Regions from separate parts of the Homo sapiens genome. Here region 1 is linked to region 2. A link means that fine-mapping ties the variant in region 2 to the expression of a gene that starts in the linked region. Tissue or cell type: whole blood. Region 2 holds a variant in brackets; the other region holds the start of a gene. All regions are shown on one strand. Distances are from middle to middle.

The links. PIP is the estimated chance that this variant, and not a neighbour inherited with it, causes the effect.
Region 1: ZNF582-DT starts here. The variant in region 2 is fine-mapped to the expression of ZNF582-DT in whole blood (TOPMed, PIP 0.99).

Annotation. Positions count from the first base shown.
Region 1 is chr19:56,389,996-56,397,995 of GRCh38, reverse strand. It overlaps ZNF582-DT (ZNF582 divergent transcript), which reads right to left and starts at 4,320. Exons shown (of 2, transcript NR_037160.1): 1 at 3,943-4,320; 2 at 1-115. ZNF582 (zinc finger protein 582) reads left to right here and starts at 4,462. Exons shown (of 5, transcript NM_001320371.4): 1 at 4,462-4,776; 2 at 6,164-6,252; 3 at 7,495-7,621; 4 at 7,900-7,995. The coding sequence starts at 6,244.
Region 2 is chr19:56,575,057-56,583,320 of GRCh38, reverse strand. It overlaps ZNF470 (zinc finger protein 470), which reads right to left. Exons shown (of 6, transcript NM_001001668.4): 6 at 427-6,608. The coding sequence ends at 4,738. Among named protein-coding and RNA genes, the nearest start is that of ZNF470-DT, 11 kb to the right of the region's middle. The variant TTGTGTACCA/A (reference allele first, on the strand shown) is at 4,287.

The DNA.
Region 1 (8,000 bases), 190 kb after region 2:
TATTTACCCCAGACAATGATGCAGCTTCACCATCATTTTGCAAGGCTGAAGCAAGACGATCACTTGAGCTCCGGAGTTCAAGACCAGCCTGGGCAATACAGTGAGGCTCCCATCTCTACAGAAAAAAAAAAAGAAAAGAAAAATTAGCTGGTGTGGTGGTACGCACCTGTGTTCTCAGCTACTTGGGAGGCTGAGGTAGGAGGATCGCTTAAGCCCAGGAAGTTGAGGCTGCAGTAAGCCGTTTGTGCCACTGTGGCAAGCCAGATCTCACAAAAACTGAACAGGCAGGCCTCCATAAGAACTGTTCTAGCATTGACTAAATGGTTAGGTTAAATATTAAAGGCTGAGAGAGCCAGCGCCCTAACACAAAGGCTGATGATTTGAAGCATGACAAAATAATGAAGGAATGGTCACACTCCTCATACCAGGATCCATTTAGGATTAAACAAGTTTTATTGGGGGTCTAAAGGAACTCTCCAGACCTCCATAACTTAGTAGGAGACAAGATAAGGTAATTACCTTTGGCACTTGGACCCATCTAGAGTAAGTAAAATCACTGAGGCTCCAGAGGAATGTCCCCAAGGTCTATAACTCAGACCTTAGTTATAGATTAGAAGAAATTAATCACTTGTGTCTTTAGATGAATGCACACTAACATGTAGACATATAGCTTAGAAGGTAGATAAGCACTGGAAAACTTTGTAATTTTGAGTTGGTCTGGCAATATTTTTCTGGCCCTCTCCCTGTACCCGGTTACAGAAATAAAACTCTCTTCTTTCACAGTTCATCAGCATCTTGTTATAGGGCTGCGAGAATAAGCAGCCTGACCTTCAGTTCAGTCCAGGAACACCACTGCACACCAGCTTGGGTGACAGAGTGAGACCTTGTCTCTTAAAAAAAAAAGTCCTCAGAGAGAGGCCACATGTATTTTGTCCTCAGTTGTCACAAGGAAGATGCAATACATTTATTTTTCTCCTGGATTAGTACTGCAGAAAAGCCTTTTATCCTTTTTCTTTTTTGGCTATGGATGTCCAGTTGCTCCAGCACTGTTTGTTGAAAAGGTTATACTTCCTCCGTGGAAATTTATTATTATTATAATGCACAGATTTTAGGTCAGAAAAATTGGGGGAGGTGCCCAAGGTCACTCAGGGAGTAAGTAGCTAAGATTGGGTTAGAACCCACTTTGTTGTGTGATTCCTTGCTTGGATTACTATGCACAACAGAATATGGCCCACCTCCCCACAGTTGATCTCATTCAAGTGATAATGGGTGATCCTGAAACAGAAGGAATCTGGCAGAAGCACGGATATGGCTGGGGATAACAGGAGAGGGAGCTGCTGGAGTAACTCTGTGGGCGGCAAGCCACCCAGGTGCCAAGGCAAGAGACCGAGGACACGAGCTGTTCCAGTATAATAAAATATAAAACAAGAATAGTTATACCAGATATAGATCTTAGATATGATTATATATGAATATCATTAATCATTAGTTGGTAGCAATTACTCTTTATTCCAAATTATAATAATCCTCACTCTATAATCATAACCTGGGAAAAGCCAGGCCATATAGAGATAGGAGCTGAGGAGACATAGTGAGAAGTGACCAGAAGACAAGAGTGCGAGCCTTCTGTTATGCCCAGACAGGGCCACCAGAGGGCTCCTTGGTCTAGCGGTGATGCCAGCATCTGGGAAGATGCCCGTTGCCAAGCGGACCGTGGTCTAGCAGTAGTGTTAGTGTCAAGGAAAAACACCTGCTACGTAGCGGACCGGGAAAGGGAGTCTCCCTTTCCCCGGGGGAGTTTAGAGAAGACTCTACTCCTCCACCACTTGTGGAGGGCCTCAGGCCCACCTGCAGTTATCCGGAGGCCTAACCGTCTCCCTGTGATGCTGTGCTTCAGTGGTCACGCTCCTAGTCCACCTTCATGTTCCATCCTGTACACCTGGCTCTGCCGTTTAGTTAGCAGTAGCAAACCAGTGAAAGTACTAAGTCTCTAATAAGTAGAAATAATGGTGTAAGCTCTCTCTCTCTTTCTCCTCTCTCTCTCTGCCTCGGCTGCCAGGCAGGAAAGGGCCCCCTGTCCAGTGGACATGTGACCCATGTGGCCTTACCTATCATTGGAGATGGCTCACACTCCTTATCCTGCCCCTTTGTCTTGTATCCAATAAATATCAGCGCAGCCTGGCATTCGGGGCCACTACCAGTCTCCGCGTCTTGGTGGTAGTGGTCCCCTGGGCCCAGCTGTCTTTTCTTTTATCTCTGTCTTGCGTCTTTATTTCTACAATCTCTCGTCTCCGCACACGGGGAGAAACCAACCGACCCTGTGGGGCTGGACCCTACAAACTCTGCATGTGCTTTGGCACAGGAATGTGTACTGGGAAGTGGCTGACAAAAGACCTATGGATTCCATGGAATGGAGAGGCTAGCTCAGAGCATTCTCATACTCTTAAAAGGAAGAAACTGGAAGCCACCCTCTAAGACGACCCTGAATGATCCCTGCCTCCTAGTACTTATACTCTTGTGTAGCCTCCACCTACTTAGACTCACAGCTGATTTTGTGACCAAGAGTATAATGGTGTATGACTTCAGAGGCTTGGTTCAGAGTCAGAAGTGGCCATTTCATCATCCTCTAAATTTCTCTTTGGCAGATTAATGAATGTGAGAAAGTAAAAATGGTATAGAAGAAAGTTAGCCTGAGAGATGGCTGGCTTTGTACCTGTTTGGTCTTTTTCCTTCCTTTCCTCCATAAGCAAATACTGACGCATGTACATATAGACACACTCAACACAGTGGGATGTTAAAGGGAAACTAGAGCCACTCGCCCCTTCCCAAGATCAGAGAACATAGGAAAGATGATGACTTTTTGCATCTACCCTCTCCTCTTGAACTCGCAACACTGTCTTGAACCACAAATAAGGTCAAGTAGGATAAATCTACAACTGTCTCCTCAACTGTCCGCTCACAAGTGTGAAATTCAACCATCCTTGCTGAAGTTGTCTTTTAATATCAGTAATCAGCAATAACCAACCTCTGAGCTTTGCTTATATTATTAAATCATTTTATTTGACCCTCAGGACAAAGCTGCAAGCCCAGCATTACATTCTTCCTTTTATGGACAAAAAAAAAAAAACAAAACAAAACCGAGATAGGCACGAAGAAACTAATAAATGGCTGAAATGCTATTTGAATCCACATCTGTCTAATTCTAAAAGTGTGCTTTCCACCACATCACCGCACCTACAAGGAAAATGCAGCCTCTACCCTCTCCTGAAGAATGTGTAAAGAGGCAATATGGTGTGTTTTGGAAAAAGCATCTTTGCAGAAAGAAAGCATTAGCTTCAGTCATATTAGCATCCTTATCCAGCAGCAGTAGCATTATTTTACATATCAGTTACTCCTCCCCAACAACTCAATGAATTAGATGCCACAATCATCCTCACTTTCAAATGTGGAGACCGAGGCACATCTCTAAGACTGGAGTTCAGGCATTCTGGCTCCAGTCTTAGAGATGGTTAAGGGTTCACACTCTTAACCATTTATTACACCATAGAGCTCACCAGGTTTGAGGGAAACAGGATCAAATCAAAAGAGTCACTCAGGACTCCAGTCCTCACTCAAGGACAAACTGTTCCACCTCGGACAGGGAGAGTTTCCGCATTCTGAGACCCAGCATAACAGGTCCTGACCGGCATCTGGCACTCGGACTCCCAATCATACTGGATCACACTGGCTCGGGATGTGTAAAGTCCAGGGCTTCTCACATTTGATGACACCAAAGCCGCCTAAAAACAAGAGAGAATTAACAACTACCTACGGCGGTCTGATATTTGCCCAAGAGATGCCGCCCCATAAAACTCCTTTACATCTTTATAACGTTTTTATTTTGCGTTCTCCTTCATAACCCACATTTAACTCACCATAGATGTAATGTTTAAAATTAGTTACCAGATAAACTCTTACGCTTCCAAACTTTAAGGTTCCTTCGAAACCTTCTGGTAAAACTGTTGTTCCACGGAAATGGGAACGTAACGGATGAGGCAATCTTCCACAGCCGCACACAGTTGTGTATCCACCGCTAAACGGTCCCAGTCATACATTCAACGACCCACGCGGAGTCAGAAGCTACCACCACACACTGTCAAAATCACGCACACACAGTGACGGCCCCTTGCCCACTCGGTCACTCGCCCACAATCTCTCGCTAGAGAATCACACGCAGATAGCACACCCAGCACCACAGACCCCAGGAAGCAACCCAGGGACTCGAACACACGAACAGCACTCCTCCGCGCACTGCGCAGGCACGCCTGCGTCCGGCTCACCCTGAAACATCGCGAGATCCGGCTTCAAGGCCGGGCTGCTGCCTTTACGCCTAAAGACTATGTTTCCCGGAAGACACTGCGGCGCCGGCCCTATCATGGCGCAGCATCGGTGTGCTTTGTGCGTCTGCGCCATCTTCCGGCTGCGCACGGCGAATCCACCGGTACCGTGGTGGAAGCGCGCCCTGGGCTGCCGGGGGCGCGGCCGCGGTGGCACTTGGACCCGAGGAGGCGGCAGGTGAGAGGTTCCGGAGCTTTCCAGGCGCTCTGGGGTCCAGCAGGAGCTGGTGCCCGGGCCGGTTGGGTCTCAGGCCTGAGAAGAACGCAGACGTCTCGCCTCATCGTCGCTCTGTGGCTTTACCGGCGTGAGACTACATTTCCCGCCGGCCCTCGCGGCGTGCGCTTTCTGGCGCCCCCTTTCTGCTTCCAGCCTCATAGCCCAGGTGCATGGACCCCTTAGGTGGGTGCGCAGGGGTCTCCGACCCCCTGAAATTGCGGATGTTTTGCATTCACTGTTATGCGTGCCTTTTTTTTTTTTTAATCTGAGAGGAAATCTTGTTTCATGAGGTTCTCAGAGAGTTACAAGACCCCAGAAGACTTAGAACCGCTAGTTTAGAAAAACTTATACTTGGGAACATTTTATATGTTCAAATTCTATGTCCAGCAATGGGGAAACACTTGAGTGGATCACAGGCCATCCTTTGTAAATAGGATATCGTGCAGTTAATACAAATAATGCTTATAAAAGTGGTCATAATAAGGAAAAGCTGCCTATTACATCATATTAAGCAACATTCATAATTATTTCACTTACACGTTACTTAGAACCAAATGTTTGTAATGCAGTAGGCACCTTATATACTCCTTTACAGAGTACTTCTTGTTTAACAGTGAGCTCAAGAACTGGTTAAATGACAACACTGCGAATACTTGGGTGTTTTTTCTTCCAATTTTTTTGTTTTGTTTTGTTTTTAGCCTGTGTGTTAGTGAGTTTGACTTCTTTTTGCTGAATGTTCTCAAAGGATTCAGTAGTTAATATCTTTGCTTGTCAGTTTTTGATAGTCATTTTTGATAGTCACTTGGCATCCCATTATATGGCTGTGCCAAAAATGATTCAACCTCTTGGCTACTTGTGGACTTGCCTACTTACGTACTAATTTTCAGTTCTCCTATTTAGCAAATATTATTGGACATGCAGCTTTGTGCACTGCTGTGTCTCTATGGAAGGACACATTTATGTGCTGATAATGGAGCACTGGGCGTGCTGTGTGTAATTTGTCTCTTACTGTTCCTTCCAACTCTATCCCATTTGTTGATGCAAGGCATGCTCCATGAAGTGGCATGCACAAAGCCTCAGTTTGGGCTGTAGAGCTTTTTGTATATTTGGCGGTTGGGAAAAGAGCCAGGTAGACTTTCAAAGGTGTTATATTTGCTGCAGGAGAGAGTTAAATGGCCTAGTCCTGGAAAGGCTTTATTCTAGGCTGGGGCTATGCAAATGATGCAGGCCTTCTATGCTCCCTGGCTTGAGGGAAGCCCTCCTTGTCCTTGAGGTAACATGTGGGTCTCAGTCACTAGAACAGCCCTCAGCATCCCTGTCTTAGACTTGCATTTGCAGCAAAACAGAACCACTGGATGTTTAGGGGAAATGGGAGGGAAAGGACCACTGGTTCCCCTTTGCCTTGCAGCAGCTAAAGCTGGTTTCCTGGGGTTGGGTGAGGATCCCTTTGCCTCCCCCTCCTTCTCATTTTCTTGGTGGGCAGAGGGCAAGCAGGTGGGGACTTGTAACTTGGCATTCTAGGAACTGTGAGGCAAGCCTAGCCTCTCATGTTTGCTCTTTCCTCCCCCAGCTCTACCGTCGCAGGACTCTGCCCTTCCCCAAGAGAGGAACCAGAAGGAGGACCTATCAGCCCTTGAAATTCTAAAAGTCATGTCCCTTGTGAGTTTTTAAATCCCATAAATATTTGCTTTCCTTATCTTGAAACTTTCCACCTGGGTTCCATCCAGAAATTTGGTTCTCAGACTTTCCCATTTTAGGGAATAAAAGGACCAGGCAGGAGTCTCCTCTCCCATTGTCCTCTCCCCTCTGACAAATGCCCACAGATTTATTCTCTATAGCATTCTGCATCTCCTGATGGTTTTCGTCTGCTAGGAGGAGAAACTCATTTCCCTGTATGAAATGAGAGCATCCTTTGTAAGAACTGAAGTTTGAAGAGATGGAATGAATGCTTAGGAGCAATCACATATAGAAAAGCAGGGGAGGTGGTGTTGGTTGGTTTCAGTTTCAGCGCATGGTACAGTGTCCTGCTTTGGGAATGATTAATGATTGGATATGTAATTGAGGTTTGGCTGGGAATCCATCAAAAATTTGATGCCAGAATTAAAGTCTAGTTTGACGTTGGACAGAGCATTTGAATCTGGGACATCCTCCATTAGTTTCTTTAGCTTAAGAGGAAGAAAAGTACAGAGCTGAGGATGGTGAGCGATGTAGCAAGTGAGATGATCATCTAGGTGGGTGAGTGGTCAGGGCTTGGAAAAGCCTTAGAGATCTGATCCAACCTCGGGATCCAAAATAAGAGGATGTTTGAGTCAGTTGTTTCACTTGATAGAAAATTGTGCACTCAATAAAAGTTATCTCCATGGTTTTTCCCATGAAGAAAAATGCTTGTGTTATGTTCCAACATAATGATGAACTTTCATCTCCAAGAAATTCTTGACTTACATGAAAATCCTGTATCTAAGATAGAAAACATGTTTCCATAATTTTAAAAAATAAAATATTTGGGGAAAATCCATCAGAAATATTTTTTGTTGTTATTGTTATTCCAAAAGATAGAAGTGATAGGTCTCACCTTGAGAATTTATTGTATGCCAAGTATAGAGTGGGCAGTGTGCTTTATTACACTGTTTCTTAACAATAAGGAAAACTCCATTTAGCTTGATTTTAATTTTCATCCCAGACCTGTACACAGAGCATTGATTTGCAGTTAAAAGGAATGTTTGAGAACAATTTGATCATTCTGTTTTACTCATCCCCATTTCTTCTGTCACCTTTCACATTCAGTCCCACCCTTCTTGTTCAACAAAACAACCCCCCCTCCCGCAAAGACCTGCCCCATCTCCTTTCATCCCACTGTGAACCATTGAAATACATATATATCATACATGCCTGTCATTCCAGGGGTCAGAATTGTTCAGGGATGTGGCCATAGTCTTCTCCCAAGAAGAATGGCAGTGGTTGGCACCTGCTCAGAGGGATTTGTACAGAGACGTGATGTTGGAGACCTACAGCAACCTGGTCTCACTGGGTAAGGTGATCTCGTCTGTTAGTTTGGAGGTTATCCTTGGGCATGTTCCTTCCTGGTCAGTTTTTGGGTGCTTTTCAGTCTTATGATTGGTTGGTCATTTTTGAGGGGTTAAAGGGCGGCGCTGTCGGCTGAAGCTGCATCCCCCTACCCCCAGGCAACTGTCCCATCTTCCTCTGGCACTTCCTGCAACTGCCTCTCCTGCTTGATGACCAGGTCCTGGATCTGAATTCTGGGGCCCCCACACCATAACCAGGTGGCATGTTTCTTCTCATCTCCAGGTCTTGCCGTTTCCAAACCTGATGTGATCTCCTTCCTAGAGCAAGGCAAAGAGCCCTGGATGGTGGAGAGAGTGGTGTCTGGAGGCCTGTGTCCAGGTGAG
Region 2 (8,264 bases):
GATTTTTGCATTTAATGTTATGGTCATGTTAAATTCACTTTGTTATTCCATGTGAGCAACAATGGAATGGGGGAATAAGATGAACTGTTAGCTGTCTCTTCAGAACAGCCATATGTACCTATGCAAACAGATGTTAATAGGTGGTATATCACACGAATCCGGAAGTTCAGTATATTCCAATCCTTTGGCTCATCTCCAATATCACCTTTCCAATAGTAGAGCTATATTTTTTTCTGTTCAATATTCTGTTACACAAGAAGTATGACCATATATCCTGCTTTGCTGAGGATATGAACACCTGTTGTCAAGTGCCCTGTGCAGTTAGCTACTCCTTTCACTCTCAAAAATGTCCCAGTTTGAACAATAAATTATATGGTAATTGCATTAATCAGTTCAGGCTGCCGTAACAATATACCACAGACTGGGTGGCTTAAACAACCAACATTTATTTTCTCACAGTCCTGGAGATTAAAAGTCCAAGATCAAGGTGCTGGCAGGGCTGGTTCCTGGTGAGGTCTCTCCTCCTGGCTTGCAGATGGCAGCATTCTTGTTGTGTCCTTACACAGCATTTCCTCTGTGCACATGTGGAGAGACAAACCTCTGGTGTCTCTTCCTCTTATAAGGACACTAGTCCTATGGGATTAGGGCCTCACTCTTATGGCCTAACTTAACCTTAGTTTCTTAAAGGCCTTATGTCCAAATACAGTCATGTTGGGGTTTAGGACTTCAACAAGTAAATTTGGTGGTGGTAGAGGCCAGCATTTGGTGGTGCTGGTGGGAACACAATTCAGAACTGAATTCACAATTCAATTCACAGTGACTCTTGTGAATAAAGTATAAAATTTAACCAGCATTCCACTTTAACAATGCATAAAAATAGTCTCTAAATTTGGTTATGAGCCATCTTAACCCTATGACTTTAAACAATGTAAGACATCTTTCAACAATATCATACAAAATCCCTTAGGTGAATTTTTTTTGCCTTAATGCTAGAAATTCAAGAGCTAAACTTTAAGTTATTCCAAGCAGTTAGATACCAGTATTACATATACCTTTTGGATTCAGCATTCTCCATCCTCCTTAAATTATCATTATCCAGAACCCTAGACCTCTATTCATCCCAGGTGACTATAATGAATAATCAGGCGTTTGCTCATCGCACACCATGAGATGCTTTCCAGTCTAGAATATAAGTCTTATTCGCCCCATCTCATCCAAAAAGCAACTCCCAATACCTGATTTTTCCAAAGATTCTAATGCCCATTACCCAATCTTCGTACCAAATTCTGTATGATTGTTTCTTTACTTGCAAGCAACTGACCAACAGGAGGCAAAAATCAAGTACCGGAAAGACAATGGGTAGTTTGAGGAATCACAGACTTGGAAAGTACAAAAACCAGGGTGGTTCCAAGGACCAATCAAAAGAATAACTGCATCAGCTTTTAGGGAGTTGCCATTGGATGACACAGATCCAAATGCCTTTTGAAATTCAGAGACAATTTTATTGGCCACGTCCATCAAAAACATATGGTAGGGTATGGCCAGTTACTCAAAAGGAAAAGATGAGATAGTGCAGCCAAAAGGAGGAGGCAAGGGAAACTGGGCAGAGAAAAACAAATGCCTACTATAATATATATTTTGATTTTTATTTTTGATATCACAATTATGGGCCTATACTACAATACAGGTCTGCAATTTTTCATTTAGTATAGCACAGCTATCTTTCTATGACTACACACATTGATTTTTTTTCAACAGCTGCATAATTCCTATTGAATGGATATATACCATAATTAATTTATTTATTACCCTGATGGACACTTGTTGTTTTAATAGTTTACCATTAATTTTTTTGCCACTAATACATTTATCTACCTTTGTATATGTTGGTTTCCAAGGAATATTAATTCAAAGGGTATATACATAAAGCAATAGATATGTAATCAACAATGGAATTCCCTTGTTTCCACACATTCACCAATACTGAATGTTATCACTCGATTAGTCAGTCTTTTGGGGAAAAAGTAGATAATCACTTTAATTTGCATTTCTTGATTTCTAGTGATATTGGATAATTTTCATTAACTGCTTTTATTGCATCTTTTGTGAATGGGACATTAGTCCATTTTTCTAAGTTGCAGATTATTATTGGTTTGTAATAGTACTTTGAATATCACGAATTACAGTCCTTTATTATATCTGTTGCAAACACTTTGTGTCAGTCTCTCATTTATCTATTGACTATGATGTTTTCCACCATATAAAAGCCTAATGTCAGCTTTGGGGTTATGCATTAGTGCTTAAAGTCTATTTCAAACCGAGGGTACATATATATTATTCTGTTTTTCATGTACTTTAATTTTACATTTAGACCTTTAATATCTCAGGCATTTCATTAGTGTGAAAGGTACAGATCTGTTTTTCCAGTGAGCTAAGTTTCCCAATGCCATTTGATCAAACCACCTTTTCCCCACTACAATGAAAAATCCTTTTTATCATATATAAGGAGAGTCTGAAAGCTCCACATTCTCTGGTGAGACTACCCATCCCCTAGCCATTATGCTTCTATCAGCAGAAGTGAAGAGGGAGCCCCAAACTCCATTTTCTAGCAGTCATGTACTCTGGATAACGGCTTCCCTCACATGGCCCTCTATACTTCCACAGAAAGCAGTTAAGAGGGAACCCAAGAGCTCTGGGTGCTTCAGTTGAAAAAAAAAAAAAAGTACTCTTCCAGGGATGGCCATAACTACAAAAGGACAAGGGATTCCTCTTTGAGGTGATGAAAATGTTCTAAAATTGATGGTGGTGATGGTTGCACAACTCCGTGAATGAACTAAAAGCCATAAGTTGTACACTTTAAGTGGAACTTTGGGGCTCCCTCTTCACTTCTGCTGATGGATACAGAGAGAAGGATATGGGTGTTCTCCAGAATTGCTTTGTCTCAATAAAGCTGTCACTCAAAAAATACCCTTCCACCAGCTTCTAAATCAACATTTATATGAGTGAACATAACTGCCATGATCTCTGTTAAACCATCAATCCTCCCTTCCTCCAACACTCAAAGCATCATAAACAATATCTGCCTTGGGACTATCATGACTATTTTCATTATGCCTTTTGTGTCTCACAGTTACCTCTAGTTCTTCCCTCATCCTCTAATACCAACATGTTCTGGGGATAGTAAGGTGCCTGATCCAGCACTCCCTAGCTTCTTTTTTATATCATTTCTCTTTATGGGACATATCATATACTTATCACATAGCATGCATTTAATTTTTTCTGTTCTACTAGATCTGTAAGAGCACGTATTTTTGTCCATCTTGTACCTTACTGTATCCCCCAGCACCTAAAATAGTGTGTGAAACATTAGCAAATGTTCAATTAGTATTAGTACTACATTCCTAATGTAAACTACATTCCTCGTTAAAATCAAAATTCTACAGATGATCAGAATCAGCTTCTCAACTAAAAAAATATGGAAATTTTTACTGGAATATCAATGAATTTACAATTTAGGGAGAAATATTTTTATCAGATTTTCTATACAGAGGCATGTCTAGCCTTCCTATTTTTAAATATTTTAAAAATAAGTTTAAGTTGTAACATCTACATTCAGAAACTAATTGCAGTGTACATATTTTTATGTTTTGGCATGTCTTGTCAATCTCATGGAACAAGATGGAAGGTCTTATTGCATTTTATTTTATGCTAGAACAATTTAAATACCACACGAATTGTCTGTGGTACTTTTATAAAGGCCAAAGTATTGAACTACCCTTTTCAGTGTTTCATGGCTATTAATCTATTCAAGTTTTTTTGGCTTGTTACTTTTGGTTTACTACTACCTACCCTGGTTAGTCCTACATTCTACCAAATGCTTTTGTTCTTTGTTTTTCCTTGAGACAGTGTCTGGCTCTGCTGCCCAGCTGGAATTGCAGTGGTGTGATCATGACTCACTGCAACCTCTACCTCCTGGGCTCAAGCAATCCTCCTGCTTCAGCCTCCTGAGTAGCTAGGACTACAGGTGTGCACCACCACGCCTGGCTAATTTCTGTATTTTTTGTAGAGACAGGGTTTCACCATGTTGCTCAGGTTGGTCTCGAACTCCTGAGCTCAAGCAATCTGCCTGCCTCAGCCTCCCAAAGTGCTGGGACTACAGGCATGAGCCACCGCACCCAGCTAAAAGCTTTTGTTCTAATTGGCTGATTCTCACTTCTCAGTGTCAGGTAAAGTGAGAGTTGCTCATCAACAATGTCACAGAGGGAGTGATAAGCCACCATGTTACC[TTGTGTACCA/A]TAAATCTTTCAATTCTGAGTTTGTTCATCTTTCCTCTCTACCAGGAGAGTAGTCTTCTGTCTGCTCTAAAATCTTAGTCTTAGACTTACTGTTTGGTTTACTTGCTGCTTAATATGATAGTTTGTAAGGAAACCTTTACCTTAATGGCTAGCATTTATTTAGCAATAACTATATGCCAGTGTGTGCTAAATCCTTGAAATGGATTAGTTAATATATTTTTCAAATCAAGTGTTTTAAATGGGAAAATAACATAAATTATGTATTTTTATTTTTAAAAGGTTAGGCTGCCTACAGTGTTAAACATGTAGTTGATAGAAGCAAAAGGGGCAACAGTTATGCTACTGCAGAAATCCAGATGAGATGGTTGCGTCTTGGACTATGATGATGGGACATGTGCTGGAAAAAAGCAGATGGATGCTAGAAGCATTTACGAGATTGAATCTATAGGACTTGGTGGTATGGGAGGGCAGAGGAGAGAATAACTGATGACTCTCCGGTATGAATTCGCTGATGATGAGCAAGATGTACACTCTGCCTGAAGGCTTTTCCACATTCTTTACACTCATAGGGCCTTTCTCCAGTATGAATTCTCTTATGTAGAGTAAGATGGGCAACCTGGCTGAAGGCTTTGCTACATTCCTTACACTCATAAGGTTTCTCTCCTGTATGAATTCTCTGATGCAGAGTAAGGGATTTACGATGGCTAAAGGCTTTCCCACAAACATTACATTCATAAGGTTTCTCACCAGTATGACATCTCTGATGACAAATCAAGGATGCCCTCTGCCTGAATGCCTTCCCACATTCAAGACATTCATACGGTCTTTTGCCACTGTGGAGTCTCTGATGTTGAACAAGATATGAGCCATCACTAAAGGCCTTCCCACATTCAATACATTCGTAAGGCTTCTCACCAGTATGAACTCTCTGGTGCTGAACAAGGTGTGCAATCTGACTGAAGGCCTTACCACATTCCTTACATTCATAAGGTTTCTCCCCAGTGTGTATTTTCTGATGTTGCGCGAGGTGTGCATTCTGGCTGAAGGTTTTGCTGCATTCCTTACATTCATAAGGTTTCTCTCCAGTATGAATTCTCTGATGATGAGCCAGATGCGTGCTCTGCCGGAAAGCTTTCCCACATTCTTTACATTCATAGGGTTTCTCTCCAGTATGAACTCTCTGATGAAGAGTAAGAGACCCACGATGGCTGAAGGCTTTCTCACAGATATTGCATTCATAAGGTTTCTCTCCTGTATGAATTCTCTGATGTACTGTCAGAGATGAGCCATGGCTAAAAGCCTTCCCACACACATTACATTTGTAAGGTCTCTCTCCAGTATGAGTTCTCTTATGCTGAATAAGTCCTATGTGATCAGTGAAAGCCTTCCCACAATCAATACAGTCAAAGGGTTTCTCTCCAGTATGATAATATCGCCGATGACGTATAAGAGAAGCATTCTGCCTGAAAGCTTTCCCACAGTCAATACATTCATAAGGTCTTTTCCCAGTGTGAATCCTTCGATGATGAGCTAGGGATGAGCAATCACTAAAAGCCTTCCCACATTCAATACATTCATAGGGTTTCTCTCCAGTGTGGACCCTCTGATGTTGAGCAAGGTGTGCAAGCTGGCTGAATGCTTTATTACACTGCTTACACTGATAAGGTTTCTCTCCAGTATGAACTCTCTGGTGTTGAACAAGATGAGCATTCTGGCTGAAGGCTTTCCCACATTCAGTACATTCAAAAGGTTTTTCTCCTGTGTGTATTCTCTGATGTTGAGCAAGGTGGGCACTCTGGCTAAAGGCCTTTCCACATTCAATACATTCATAGGGTTTCTCTCCTGTATGAATTCTTTGGTGAAGAGTAAGGGTTGAGATTTTGCTGAATATTTTCTCACAGTCATTACATTTTAAAAGTTTCTTTTCTCCACGGTCTTGCTTGTGTTTTTTCACAACTGAATGTGTTTTTAAGCTTTTCTTATCTGTATGAAAATTAAATATTCTCTCTTCCATGGGAAAAATCTGTTTTATATAAGATAATGTATTCAGATGAAAAACTGTCCCAGATTTGTTAGAGTGATCTCTTTTTTCAATAAGAGTATCTATATGAGTGATGGTCTCTTGCCTAAAATGTGTCTTCTGGTTTACAAGCTCCCTCTCAAACAAGTCTTCACATTTCCAGTTTTTCCCTAATGTTGAACATTCAAGGTCATAGCTTTTAAGTCTTTCCATTATGATTGCCGGGGGTAATTTTTCTTCATAAATATCCTGGTTTAAAGATAATGATTTGGTCACCCACACACACTCCAAGTCTGAAAGATATTAAGAAAGTAAATGTCTCCTTTATTAAATGCTAGAATAATGGAAATTTCGAAAATGAAAATGTGAATCACATAGTTATTGAAACCCACAAGCAGAGGTACATGTTTTTATGGTTCTTACATAAGATTAGGTGATACAACCATCCTTGCACTGCTGTAATAAATCCTCCTTGGCCATGGTATACTATTTCAATATGACCTTTTAAGATTTTGAACCAATATTGATAATTGAGGTTTGTCTCTAATTTCTCTTTTTGGTGCTATTTTGGTAATTTTGGTATCATCGGATATGCTGTATTCATAAACAAAAATGTTTTAAGCTCTCTTTTTATTCTCTATCCCAGAACAATTTAAACAACATTGATGATATTTTTCCTTAAAGAACTATTCGGGGATGTGGCTTCTTTTCTTGGGGGAGGCAGTTCCTATACAACATTCTACATTTCTCTGATGGTAACTTACTTGTTTAAATGTTGTATCTCCTCTTGGTATCAGTTATGGTAACCTACATTATTATATTCTTCTAGAATATCATCTATTTTTTCAAATTATTTTATGGAGAGTTGAGGAAAATAGATTCACATGATTCTTTTAAGTTCTTATGCATGTGTGGTTATTTATAATTATTTTGTTTTTGTGTTTTCTCTCATTTGTCCTTAGTTTATATACTGTGTTGGTTTTCTAATGAAGTATGTACAATACTTTATTTTCAGTAGCGCTACTGTTTCTAATTCATTTATTCCTACTTTTATTTGTAGACGTATAAATCACTACATATAACTTATCTGGGCTTTCCTTAAATTCATTTTGTTCTTTTTCTAATATTGTGAATCAGATGCTTACTGATTTTCATTATTTCTTATTTATTAATGTACATAGGACCACAAGTAACCCACAATCCTCTTGTTGAAACTATAAGAACTGAAAGTAGGGCCAGGTGTGGTGATGCATTCCTGTAGTCCTAGCTACTCAAGAAGCTGTGGTGGGAGTATTGCTTGAGCCCAAAAGTTCAACTCCAGCCTGGGTAACATAGCAAGATCCTGTCTCTAATTTTAAAAAGTAAAATAAAATAAAATAAAATGAAGAACTGAAAGTAGGAAAAGTCTACGCTTCAGGCCACAGATTAAACCAGGACCATCTCATTTGAGGTTCATTTTCTTGCAATATATTTCTGTCGTCTCTTATCTAGCTTTCTAAATCAGTAAAACAGCTACAAAGCAAGGCAAGAAAATTAAAAAAAAAAAAAAAAAATTGAATGAAATACCCTGCGTCAAAAATCCCAGTGAGCACAATATAAGTGGGGAAATGATGTACACAGGGAAAGAAAGTAATATTCATGAGCTAATTTCTTCATCTTTTGTAAGGGTATCAGAAGACAATGTTTGGAATACCAAGCAGAAAAATTCTAAAAGATCTTAAAATATATAAATACATAAAGGTAACAACTTGTAGAACTAAAAACTTTTCTAATTCAAAGGGTGGGGTGGTATAAAGAAGAGAGTGAGAAAAAAACAGACCTAATAAACAACAAAACAAGAATAAATAACACAAGAAATACAAAAAAGAAAAAGGCAGAGGGAAGAAAATAGCTGTAATACATGTTAACTCAATAAACTCACCTTTTAAGGAAAGGAAAATATTTAAACC